Linked DNA regions of Homo sapiens. The protein of the gene in region 3 interacts with the protein of the main gene of each other region in a biochemical or structural test. Each region holds a gene or a part of one and is shown on either strand. Other genes may lie near its edges. The genes, in order: S100A5, S100A7 and SLC8A1.

Evidence for each region.
Region 1: the proteins of SLC8A1 (region 3) and S100A5 interact in a biophysical measurement, tested with the Homo sapiens proteins (one large-scale study listed by IntAct).
Region 2: the proteins of SLC8A1 (region 3) and S100A7 interact in a biophysical measurement, tested with the Homo sapiens proteins (one large-scale study listed by IntAct).

What each region holds. Positions count from the first base shown.
Region 1 is NC_000001.11:153,538,124-153,542,532, reverse strand, and holds the start of S100A5 (protein S100-A5), read left to right. Parts: upstream 1-1,598; 5' UTR 1,599-1,912; exon of another isoform or gene 1,913-2,327; coding exon of another isoform or gene 2,328-2,341; coding exon 2,342-2,479; intron 2,480-4,409. UniProt on the Homo sapiens protein: Binds calcium, zinc and copper. One subunit can simultaneously bind 2 calcium ions or 2 copper ions plus 1 zinc ion. Calcium and copper ions compete for the same binding sites.
Region 2 is NC_000001.11:153,457,739-153,462,095, forward strand, and holds S100A7 (protein S100-A7), read right to left. Parts: upstream 2,914-4,357; 5' UTR 2,870-2,913; intron 1,293-2,869; 5' UTR 1,276-1,292; coding exon 1,135-1,275; intron 233-1,134; coding exon 68-232; 3' UTR 6-67; downstream 1-5.
Region 3 is NC_000002.12:40,442,047-40,445,662, forward strand, and holds part of SLC8A1 (sodium/calcium exchanger 1 isoform A precursor), read right to left. Parts: intron 1-3,616. UniProt on the Homo sapiens protein: Mediates the exchange of one Ca(2+) ion against three to four Na(+) ions across the cell membrane, and thereby contributes to the regulation of cytoplasmic Ca(2+) levels and Ca(2+)-dependent cellular processes.

The DNA.
Region 1 (4,409 bases), on a different chromosome or scaffold from region 3:
GGTGACTCAGATGTTCCCGCAGGGTTTGAATACAGAGACTTGGGAGGAATTTCAGTTCAGGAGAAAGTCTGCTGCCTTCCGCTGCCCTCTCCATCCACCCTCCCTGGGAGCGCCCTCCCTGGGGCCTCCACCCAGGTCACGCTCTCCTTCAGAGATGCCTACTGCATAGCAACCAATCCCTGCTGCCTCTCCAATCTTGCCAGCTGGGGGTGGGGTGGAGTGGGGAGCAGTGGGGAGGCCCCCCAGGCTGGGGTGGGACTGCAGCAGTGATAGGTACTACACCCTGAGCCCAGGTCTGTTCTTGGACTGGTGGTAGAAGTATGTTGTTCTACTGTGGTAGAACGATGTCTGAGTGTCTCCTGGGATACAGGAAACTCTCCCTGGCCCCTACTTCCTCCTTGACTGCAGCCTGAACCTGAACCCCCCTCCCCAATCCACAACCTCTACCCCAGTGCTGGGCCTTAGCCCTTCGCTGGACACCTTCCCTATTCCTGATTCTCAGTCCTCCATGCCAAGAGTCTCCGACGAGCCTTTCCTGTGAAGAGCAGTGAGGCCTAGAAGAAATCGTTCATTTAAAAGCCCTTTAAAAACCTCTGGGCCCATATTAGCTCATGACCTTGACCATATCCTTCGCAGAAAATATCTTCCTCCACTGATCCCCATCTCAAGGGCTGTCTTCTCTACTCCTGGAGTGGGTGGCAGGATGGGTGGGAGGGGCCCGATGTGGAGAGCTTCCTAGGACACGGGGAGATGGTGCCCTGTGTTTGTCCCACACTTCTGAGGTTTTCTTTCCAGGACAGCCTGGTTTCCCTTCTTCGGCTTATTGTTCCATCAGATTTCAGATTTTGAGTTCTGATTTTTGGTCAGAAGAGTAAAGTTTCTGGGATTGGGGACGTGTGTGCTATGGGAACTCAGTGTGTCCCCAGCCCTTGTTTGTAAACAAGGAAGGTGAGATTGGCAGAAGGGGTTTCTCCCCAGCTCCATCCCGGGAGGCTCTGACGTGGGCATCCTCAAGTCCCCAACAACTTCTCATGGGCCCTTTCTCTCCCCTGGATTCCTAGGGACAGAGATCAGGGAAATAAAGGCAGAAGGCAGTGAGAGGGAGGCTATGCCTGCTGCTTGGATTCTCTGGGCTCACTCCCACAGTGGTAAGTCCTTCCTTCCTATGTCTCTGTTCATCTGATATCTGGTGGGTCACGCTGGATGATGAGGGTGACAAGTGGTGGTGACCTCCACCAAGGAGGCCTGGCCCCACAAGCGGGCATGCGCTCAGGGAGAAGAGGGCAGAGCCTTTGGAATTTCTTGAGAAATGGCTCTGGGGTGGAGGTGGGGGTCTGGACTAGCCAGGATGCTCCTGCAGGTGCACAGAGTCCCTTGCCTTCAACTGTGGTCCCAGCTGAGTCTCCTTGAGGTGGGAGAGGCTGAGGTTTTTGTGGTGGGAGAGGAATGATGGGTCTGGTTCAAGAATGGCAGGGAGGGCTTTGGGCTGGAGGTGAAGACTCTCCACAGATTTAACCTGCAGCCTTCAAGTTCCGTGGGTGTTGCCTCCTTCCTCCCTGAGGGGGAAGTGGTTTTTGAGTCTGAGTCACTTGAGCTCCATCTGTCTCTTCCCTTGGCTGAGGGTGGCTGTGCTATTGGAATCCAGGCCCTTATTCAAGCGTAGCCTCTGGATCCAGGTTTTGGAATGATCCTGGAGATTTCAAGAGGCCCCCTGCCCTCCCTGCCCGCTGACCCGTCTCTGTGTGCACTGCTCTGGGCCAGAGTCTGGAGACCAGCTGGGCCAGCTCAGCTCACCTCCCTGCTGCTCCTTGTTGAGACCCCATCACCCAGTTCCAGCCCAGCCCCCTCTCAGCCCTGGACTCTCTCTTTGCCCTGTCCCCGACTTTAATAATGGGACACTCCTCGATATCAGGTGATTCAGGCACTGGGGGAAAGGCTGGTGAACTGCCTGTGGAAAACCAGTTCCTAAGCTGGAAGAAGCAGAGAGAAAATCGTGACCCTTGATCTGCTCCACCATCTGCCACCAGGGCCTTTTGAGGAGGTCGTCTTCTCATCTTTCTGCCTCAGGCCTACTTTTCAACAACTCCCCAGCAGGAGAGTCTGTGGTCTCCTTTGGGGTCTTGCTGTTCTCCTTGTACCAGCAGCTCCAGAGTTTGTTGTGGGTCTCATTGTAACCTGTACTGATATAGATGGGCGCTCTTGTTAGTGGATTTCAGTCTCATCCTGGGTTCCAGTCTCTTGTTCTTTGAGGGAGGGGCCTCAGAGGTAGGCTAGTGCTGCTGGTGGTGACTTCCTGAGGAATGGGATCTTCCCCTCTCCCTCTACAGAGCTGCACACTGTGATGGAGACTCCTCTGGAGAAGGCCCTGACCACTATGGTGACCACGTTTCACAAATATTCGGGGAGAGAGGGTAGCAAACTGACCCTGAGTAGGAAGGAACTCAAGGAGCTGATCAAGAAAGAGCTGTGTCTTGGGGAGGTAGGTGATTGTTCCCTCATCCTCCACCCCAAAGTCTGAGTACTCCCTCTGGGGGACACATACCTACCCTCAGGATCCTCCAGCCTAAGCCAGGGGCAGGGTGGCCAAGGGCTACAGACAGAGACAAAGGAAGATGGTGGGGATTTCGGGCCAGCAAAACTCTAGCCCTCTGTGAAGGAGAATGGGTCAGGGTCTCACTGAGAAGGAGGAAGGGCTGAGTCTGGAGGGTTTAGAGAAGGAGATTGAGGAGCCTTCGATGGTGGGGCCAGGCTCTCCCAGCAGTGGCAGAACCTGTGCTAGGGGTCATGGGTGGTGAAGGGATGCAGGGTGTCCAGGTCCAGCTGTGTACAACTCAAGTGTAGGGACTCTGCCTGATTCTTCTCTGTGTGCACAGCATGGCCAGGGCTCTCTGATGGTGCTGGCACTCAAACTGAAAGGTTAACTTGTAAACATAGGGTAGTGAGGAGACAGAACTGGTTCTCACCAGATGGAGGTGGTGGGAGGGAGGTGACTGACAGAGGGGAAGGCCCATGAGGTTATTATAATACAATATCCCCGAGGATAAATAAATAAATAAATATATATATATATATATATATATATTTTTTTTTTTTTTTTTTTTTTTTTTTGAGAGAGTCTCGCTCTGTCACCCAGGCTGGAATGCAGTGACATGATCTTGGCTCACTGCAACCTCCGCCTCTCAGGTTCAAGCGATTCTCCTGCCTCAGCCTCTTCAGTAGCTGGGATTACAGGCACGCACCATCACGCCCAGCTAATTTTTGTATTTTTAGTAGAGATGGGGGTTTCACCATGTTGGTCAGGCTGGTCTCGAACACCTGACCTCGTGATCCATCTGCCTCGGACTCCCAAAGTGTTGGGATTACAGGCGTGAGCCACTGCGCCTGGCCAAGGATAAATATTTTTGAGACAGAGTCTCACTCTGTCACCCAGGTTAGAGTGCAGTGGTGCGATCATGGCTCACTGTAGCCTTGAACTTTCAGGCTCAAGTGATCCTCTTACCTCAGCCTCCTGAGAAGCTAGGACTACAAGCAAATACCACCACGCTTAGATAATTTTTAAAATTTTTTGTAGAGATGGGGTCTCACTATTTTACCCAGGCTGTTCTTGAACTCCTGGCCTCAAATGATCCTATCGCCTCAGCCTCCCAAAGTGCTGAAATTACAGGCATGAGCCACTGTGCCTAGTCTTATTATTTTTATAGTTAAAAAAAATCAATGCTCAAATACATCAAATAACTTGCCTAAGGACAATCCGCTAGTGGGAGGCTGAGCTGGAGTTCTGGGCCAGGCCTGTGAATCATCCTCCCTGTTTCCTTTAAAATTTAGCCTGGGTGCCTCTCCATCTATCACACCTTGAGCCCTGGTAGGCCCTCCCAGAAAGAAGGTCCACAGTGTGCCACATGGGCAGGGGACAGAAGCAGGTATGGGCGTCCCCAGGCCTGATCTCTGGCCTTCTGCCAGGCTGCCTGCATCCTGGAGGTTAATGAGGGCAGAGGGAGGGGCCACAGGTCCAGCAGGGATTAATTACAGAAGGAGAGACGCCCAGAGGAGGGCCTGGCAATAACAGGAGCCCAGGCTGGGGACTAGGATCACGTGACAGACAAGCAGTTTCCGCCTTTGTAAGTCCCAATGTCTCCTGTGAAAACCTGTAGCTGACGGCAATGATGAGGAGACATCAGGATCTGCTTGTCTATATTTTCTTCCTGTTCCACCCAAAGGACCCTGACTCCATCGTCCTAATGGAGCCAGGCTGGGACATCAGGGGACTGAACAACAGTGCACAACCAGGCTCCAGGCAGGCCTCTTGCACAGCTCTCCTAGCAGGGGAGGGATGCAGTGGCTTCACAGCCCCAGTGCACTGCTCTCATTGAGAGACATTTTGTCCGGGGTTATTCTCACCTAGTCCTTAG
Region 2 (4,357 bases), on a different chromosome or scaffold from region 3:
AAGTGTCTGGTGGGAGAAGACATTTTATTGTTCCTGGGGTCTCTGGAGGCCCATTGGTGGGGCTGGGTCACTGGCTGCCCCCGGAACAGGGCGCTGCTCCATGGCTCTGCTTGTGGTAGTCTGTGGCTATGTCTCCCAGCAAGGACAGAAACTCAGAAAAATCAATCTTCTTATCCTCATTCTTGTCCTTTTTCTCAAAGACATCGGCGAGGTAATTTGTGCCCTTTTTGTCCTGTGAAGAGAAAAACATACAAAATAGAAAAATTCAATCACAAACAAGTTTTGGGCTGGGAGGGAGAGGAGGAGGCAGAGATACAGACAAGTACCTAGATCTGCACAGGCATGGTGGCGGGGCTGAGAGCACAGGGTGAGTGGGTGAAGTTGGGGTGAGGACGTGAGTGTTATCCCTGGAGTTCTCTAGGGAGTCTTTTTGTCTCACACCTCAGGATGGGAGGCAGGTCCTGTCCCAAGGTGCTCTGTTAAGTGACCTTGGGGAGAGCAGTCCCCTGCCCCAGCCTCACTCTTTCCCGTCCCAGCCTCTAAGGGCACTGCCTACCTTAGTTCTACCCCAGGGCCTCAAAATTGGCCCTCATGCTTTTGTTCTCTTCTTTCTCTGGCCTCCTCTCCTTTCTTCTCCTTTTCCACCAAACTCATCTTCTGGGTATCCTACTCTTGGTCATCTAGACCCTTTGGTACCTAGTAGCCCACAGTTTTTTTTCAGATTTGCTAATGAGTCTTGTTTATTGCAAAGAGGGCTATTGATTTCTACTAACAATGGAACTTCTAGTGCTTTCCCAGTAATCTCAGGGATGTTGATGTGGGGCCTTTGGGAAACAGGACCTGAGCATGTGAGTTTCAGTCTCACAGAGAGAGGGTCAGTGAGTGCTGGGAGGGGACTGTGCACTGCCCTCAAGCTGCACACTTTGCTGACCATCTAATAACCTCCTTTATATCTGTATAACTCTTTCCCATTTTCATACTTTTTTGCCTACCATCCTTAGATTCACATATGATCCAAGTAATAAAGCCCTATTTGCAAATGGGAAATTTTTTAATCAGAGGGTGAGGGTGATCTGTCCAAGGCCACATAGCAAAATGTATCCTCCAACATTGAGAAGCTAGACACCGACTCACACAGGCACTAAGGAAGTTGGGGAAGTTCTCCTTCATCATCGTCAGCAGGCTTGGCTTCTCAATCTTGTCATCACGTCTGGTGTATTTGTGAAACATGTCGATCATGCCTATTATGGACCTCTCAGCTTGAGTGTTGCTCATCTTTGCTTTCAAAAAGCCTTCAGGAAATAAAGACAATCATTTTTTTCCCTTCATTTAAGTTAGGGTCTCTATTTGGGAGTGCTGGAAGGAGGGCTGAGGACAGAGTAAAAACACGGATAAGGTGTAGCAGAACGAACTCAATTTTTTTTTAATGTGATGGGATAAGTTGCTCAAAAATGAGAGGGTAGGACCAAGTCTGAGACCTGGCCCATCCTGGCCAGGGCCAAGAGGAGATGCAGGTGGATGGCGGAAGTCCAGCTGTGGACAGTGCTTCAGAGAGGGAGAAGCAGGGAGAGTCGGGCGCCAGCAACACATGGAAGAACTAAGCTGGGACACCCCAGCCTCAGCCAGCACATGGCAGACCCCACTCTTAAAAGAGCACCAAATCCATCTCCTCCAGCTTCACAGTCGGGGTGACAGTCATGGGGGCAGGACAATGGCCTTGGTGATCTGGTGTCTGACCCTCCTCGGCTGCTTCAGGAACCAGACACCGTGGGCCCCACCTTGACTCAAGTGCAAGCCCTGCATGACACGGTGTGTGCAGGCTCCAGGTGCACATGTGAGCGTGGACGTGAGTGTTAGCAGGAAACACAGTCCTGTCCCGAGCACAGGGGGCCCTTCTTGTATTCCCTTGGGAACGAGAAACAGGAATGGCCTCTGTTACAAGGAACAGAAATAACTCTCTGGTTCTTAAGCTGCTGGACGGGGTGGGAGTGAGGTGGGAGTCACTTCATGTCTGCTCTTGGGAATTATCTGCACCCTCTGAATCACCAAGCCTTGACTGTTTAAATAAAAATGTCTGACTTCCCAAAGCAGATCTTTCAGCCAGTAGTCAGTCTGGGCTGGCCTGCACCCCAAGCCTGAAAAATAGGACAGTGCAGTTCTCACTTCCCACACTTTCCAAAGAACCAGGAAAGGACCTTGGCTAATGCATATGGGTGTCTGACAATAAACCCCCAACACCTCTCAATGCAGGAGAAAGCTCCATGCCGGCAACTGACTAAGAGGAGCCACCCAGAGCTTTTTTGAATCTGAGGCCAAGGCCAGAGGGCAAGCCCTGTGCCCAGAGGGTGACTGACAATTTGCAGGTTGTGGTAGGGAGTGACGGAGCGTTGGTTTCTCAATACCTTACCCAGGTAGGGGCAAGCCATCTGGCCAGGGCTATGCTGTGTCGGGGTCCCAGGCCTGGGGGTTTGGAGAGCCTCCAAAGCATTCACAGGGGACCCCTAGCCCTCCACCCTCTGTGGAGCTGGAGCTGGGGAGGGGATTTAGCAACCGGGACCCCAACAGGAGGATGAATCCAGGGAGGAAGAGGACAGGGAGGGTCCTGTGCTCAGGTCCCACTGGGGACATTTCCACAGGAGTTGCCTCAGGAGATCCCAAAGGAGCAATGGACAGGTCTGGTTCAGCCACCTGGTTATACAGACGTGGGCTTTTGGGGTCAAGTGAAGGTCACACAGCCCAGCTAATGGCAGAGCTGGCCTAGACCCAGGCTTCTGAGTCTTTGTCCACAGCCCTTTCCCTTCCTACAGGCAGCATGGCAGGCCAGGCACTGGGCACTTCTAGAAAACGCAAAGAGGCAGGTGAGACTTACCAGAGCTGGGAAGCGTCACGAGTAGAAGGATGAGTGAGATGTGTGTGTTTGGACAAAGAGCAGTCCTTTATAAGGCTCAGCCTGGCTCTTCCCAGGGGCTGGGAGGCCTGGGGCCACCTCTGTCATCTGTTTCTTGGAGGCTTGCCCCACATCAGGTGGGTGGGACACACCCAGGAGGCTGTGCTCAGGATTTCTGGCCAGTGTCCCAGGTCACCAGGTCCCACCCCACCCCAGAGACCTCACCTGGAGTCTTCTCTGGCTCAACCTTGATTTGAGGGTAAGGCAGCGGTACATGTGTAGTAGCAGGTCAGAAAATGGGAGAAAAGAGCACTGGGCCTCTGGACCCAAAGAGGATGGAGTTTCAGACTCCTGAAGGCAGCATGGTCTTGTTTGTTCCCTCCCCTTATCCTTCCACACATTTGTTATGACAGCCTGTTCTATGACCCCCACCGCTGACTGAGCATTTTAATGTCTAGATATCAAGATACCTGCTGCTCCTGCATCCTCCTCAACCCTCATAGTCCTAAGAGGTGCTTCAATCTCTATTTTAGGAAAGGAGAAGTTGAGATGTTCCCAAGTTTACTCAGCTAGTAAACACAACAAATCATTATATGGACTCAGAAAAGCCTGAATCAAATCCTTACTCTTATCCCCTGTGCTATAGGTCTTGGGTCACATCAGGGTCTGCCCTATGGGAACTCAAAGTCCAGGGAGGGAAGCAGGGTTACTTCATTGCTAACCATTGGTCAGCCCCTCACAGAAGCCCTGGAATTAGGTGGGGGGACTGGGGTCAGGGGCCTCACTATCTAGGTTGAGTGGTGGAGTGACCCCCCCATGGAATGAGCCTGGAGGCAGGGAGTGGGAAAAGTTCTTTCCTGCCCCATGGCACTAACTTCCCAGAAAGTCTTCAGTGTTTTTCCTCCTCCTATGCAAAACAGCCTGTGTAGGAGTTGGGAGTTGTGCCCTTGGCTATAATGTGCCCTAACCTGCTGTGGAAAGGCTGACCCAGGTAGGGGCAAGAGGGTTGGGAAGGCATGGGAATCCCTGGGGCATGGTGAGGAAAGGGAGATGATGAATCACTGAAATGGACTTTTTCTGCTACCCCCTTGCAATGTTCCTTTTAGGGTGCAAGAGAGTTCCAGGTTCATTTAGTGCCAGCCCTTTAAGCACTCTGGGGCTCCACAGAGCTGATGTGATGTCTCCCTAGGTGGGACCTATTTTCTCCACCCATCATCTTTCTTCAACTTCCTTCTCGTCAGTACCTATGTAACCAGGGGGACCTGTTTCTCCCTCTCCCAGTTCCCCATGTGATGGCAATATTACTTTTAACAGCAAAAGATACATACACACACACACAGTGGAATGCTACTCAGCTATAAAAAAAGAATGAAATCACGCTTTTTGCGGCAACATGGATGGAACTGGAGGCTATTATCTTAAGTGAAATTACTCAGAAAGTCAAATACTGTGCAACCTCATGTGTAAGTG
Region 3 (3,616 bases):
GGTGGGGTGGGGGGAGGGGGGAGGGATAGCATTAGGAGATATACCTAATGCTAAATGACGAGTTAATGCGTGCAGCACACCAGCATGGCACATGTATACATATGTAACTAACCTGCACATTGTGCACATGTACCCTAAAACTTAAAGTATAATAATAATAAAATAAAATTAAAAAAACAAACAAATGTATAAATCTTTTTACTAAAAGTGATAATTCAAAAAAAAAAGAAAAAAGAAAAAGAAACTAGCATCAGAGTGAACAAGCAACCTACAGAATGGGAGAAAAACTTTGCAATCTACCCAATCTGACAAAGGTCTAATATCTGGAATCTACAAGGAACTTAAATTTACAAAAAAAAAAAAAAAGAAAAAACATCAAAAAGTGGACAAAGGATATGATATGAACAGACGCTTATCAAAAGAAGTCATTTATGCAGCCAACAAACATATCAAGAAAAGCTCATCATCACTGATCATTAGAGAAATGCAAATCAAAACCACAATGAGATACCATCTCACACCAGTCAAAATGGCAATTATTAAAAAGTCAGGAAACAATAGATGCTGGTGAGGCTGTGGACAAACAGAAATGCTTTTATACTGTTGATGGGATTATAAATTAGTTCAACCATTGGGGAATACAGTGTGGCAATTCCTCAAGGATCCAGAACCAGAAATACCATTTGACCTAGCAATCCCATTACTGAGTAAATACCCAAAGGAACAGAAATCATTCTACTATAAAGACACATGTACACATACGTGTATTGCAGCAATATTTACAATAGCAAAGACTTGGAACCAACCCAAATGCCCATCAACGAGAGGCTGGATAAAGAAAATTTGGTACATAGACACCATGGAATACTATGCAGCCATAACAAGGAGTGAGATCATGTCCTCTGCAGGGACATGGACGAAGCTGGAAGCCATCATCCTCAGCAAACTAACATAGGAACAGAAAACCAAACACCACACGTTCTCACTCATAAGTAGGAGTTGAACAATGAGAACACATGGACACAGGGAGGGGAACAACACACACTGGGGCTTTCTGAGGGGTTGGGGGCAAGGGGAGGGAGAACATTAGGACAAATACCTAACGCATGCAGAGCTTAAAACCTAGATGACAGGTTGATAGGTGCAGCATACCACCATGGCACATCTATACCTATGTAACAAACCTGAACACTCTGCACATATATCCCAGAACTTAAAGTAAAAAAAGAAATCCATAATTATTAACTCGAATAAATGGCTATGGAAGTAAAAATGTGACTATAAAACTAAGTAACAGAGGACTTCACCTACCAGAGTATTAGAAAAAGTTCAGCTGAAAAATAACATCTAAGCTGAGATTTAAAAGACATTCTGCAGGAAACCAGCCAAAAGGTTGTTGAATTGTAAGGTCTTAGGTGGACACTTTTGTAATTACCCTTCTCTGTAACAGGATTATTCACAGACGTACCTTCTTAGATATGCTGGGGTATGAGATCATGTTTGGAAGGGACAAAAAGTAGCTTCTATAATTTATACAAGACTTTTTCTCTCTGAGGTCAGAGCCATGCAACTGCATTTAATTGCATTCTACCACACTTATAGGGTCAATGTGGTAGATGGAAGGTTCACTGGTCTAGGGACTAAAAGAAATGAGTGCTGGTCTCAGCTCTACTGACCAGTCATATGTCCTTGGAGAAGTCATTTTCCCTCTCTTAGTATCATCTGTAAAACTGGGAAATTCTGCTAACAATCTGCAGCTGTGATATTCGAATCCTACACTTTGGCATTCAGTGCCATCTATAATATAACACCTGTCCATCTGTGCAGGTTTACTGTTAGTCAATATATCAGCTAGTAGTCAGCTGAGCTACTAAATGAAAATTACCCAAATATGTACCACATCATCTTTTCTAATGCTTTGATGGTTATCTTCCATGACCCATCTCAAATGTCAAATTTCCCTTATAAAACTACTTTGATTGCTAGGAAGGCCCTTAAACGTCATCTAGGCCAGGTACAGTAGCTCATGACTATAATCCCAGCACTTTGGGAGGCTGAGGAAGAACTGCTTGAGCCCAGGAGTTCAAGACCAGTCTGGGCAACATAGCAAGACCCCTGTCTCTACAAAAATAAAATTAAAAAATTAGCCAGGCACAGTGACATATGTCTGTGGTCCCAGCTACTCAGGAGGCTGAGCCAGGAGGATTACTTGGGCCTAGGAGGTAGAGACAGCAGTGAGCCATGATCATGCCACTGCACCCCAGCCTGGGTGACAGAGTGAGACCCTGTTTAAAGAAAAGTAAAATTAAAAAGTCATCTGTCTCCCTAGCCCCCACCTTTCCCAGTAAGAAAACTTGGGGCCTGATAACTGAAAGAGACATTTCAAACCCAAATATCTCAGAAGTGATGGAGCTGGGCTCTAAAACAAATTCTGTGAATTTCTAGGCCATTTCTCTTCACACTACACCAACACCAATTGCTAGGATTCCCCAAGCCCATCAATGTTTCATTTGCGTCTCTCATAATCTATACTGTGTGTGTCAAGAGTTGGCAAACTATGGTTAATGGGACATAGTCAACCTCCTACCTGTTCTCGTAAGGCGCACAAAATTAAAATGTTTCTTACCTTTTAAAATTACTGGAAAAAAAAGAATATTGCATGATGTGAAAATTATGTGATATTCAAATTTCAGTGTCCACAAGTAACATTTTATGGAACACAGCCGTGCCCATTCATTTATATATCATCTATGATTGCTTTCTTGCTATAACACCAGAGTTGATAAATTATGACAGATCCTATAGTTCACAAAGCCAGAAATACTGACTATCTGGGCATTTAAAAAATCAGCTCTCTGATCTTCGGTATATGCCATTTTGCGTGTACTTATCTTCCTTTACCTTCCTGTGGCAACCCCTTCACCACACCAATCAGTGTATTCACCTGGGGGCACACAGGCAGGAACAAGGCTCTCTCTCACCATTTATATCTTCAGTAATGAGCTAACAGTTGCTGAGCACCCATGTGTCAGAAACTGTTCCAAATATTTTACTAATATTAATTTATTACTCCTCACACAAAACCACAAGCCTTTTTAATATTTTTATTCCCATTTAATAGATGAAGAAAGTAAACACGGAAAAGGCTAAGTAATTAGCACAATGTCAAATATGCCATCTTTTGAATTCAAACGAATGTTATAACTATCATGAATATGTCTGCTGACCTCAGAGACCTTTAGTCTGAGGACCCTAGGTTGGTTCATTTTGTTAGTCAGTATTCTCAAACTAGATGAAAAGTCGTAGTTCCCTTTCCACCCTGAAGAATCCTTATTAGACATTCAGGAATTCCTGAGGCCCAGAAAACACAGGCAAATTTCTGGAGGCTTTCTACACAGGGAAAGAAAAAGAAAAAGAAAAAGAGGTAACTTGGATGAAATGATTTCAGAGTCATAGAACTGGATTCTACTATCTCCTATTTCAGTCTTATAAAATCATTTAATTTTACATGGCCTCCATTTGCTTATTTGTAAAATATAAACACAAAGCAAAACTAGGTGATATCAGATGTCTCTTCCAGTGCTAGCCATGGTATGAAGCAACAGAAGGACTGATA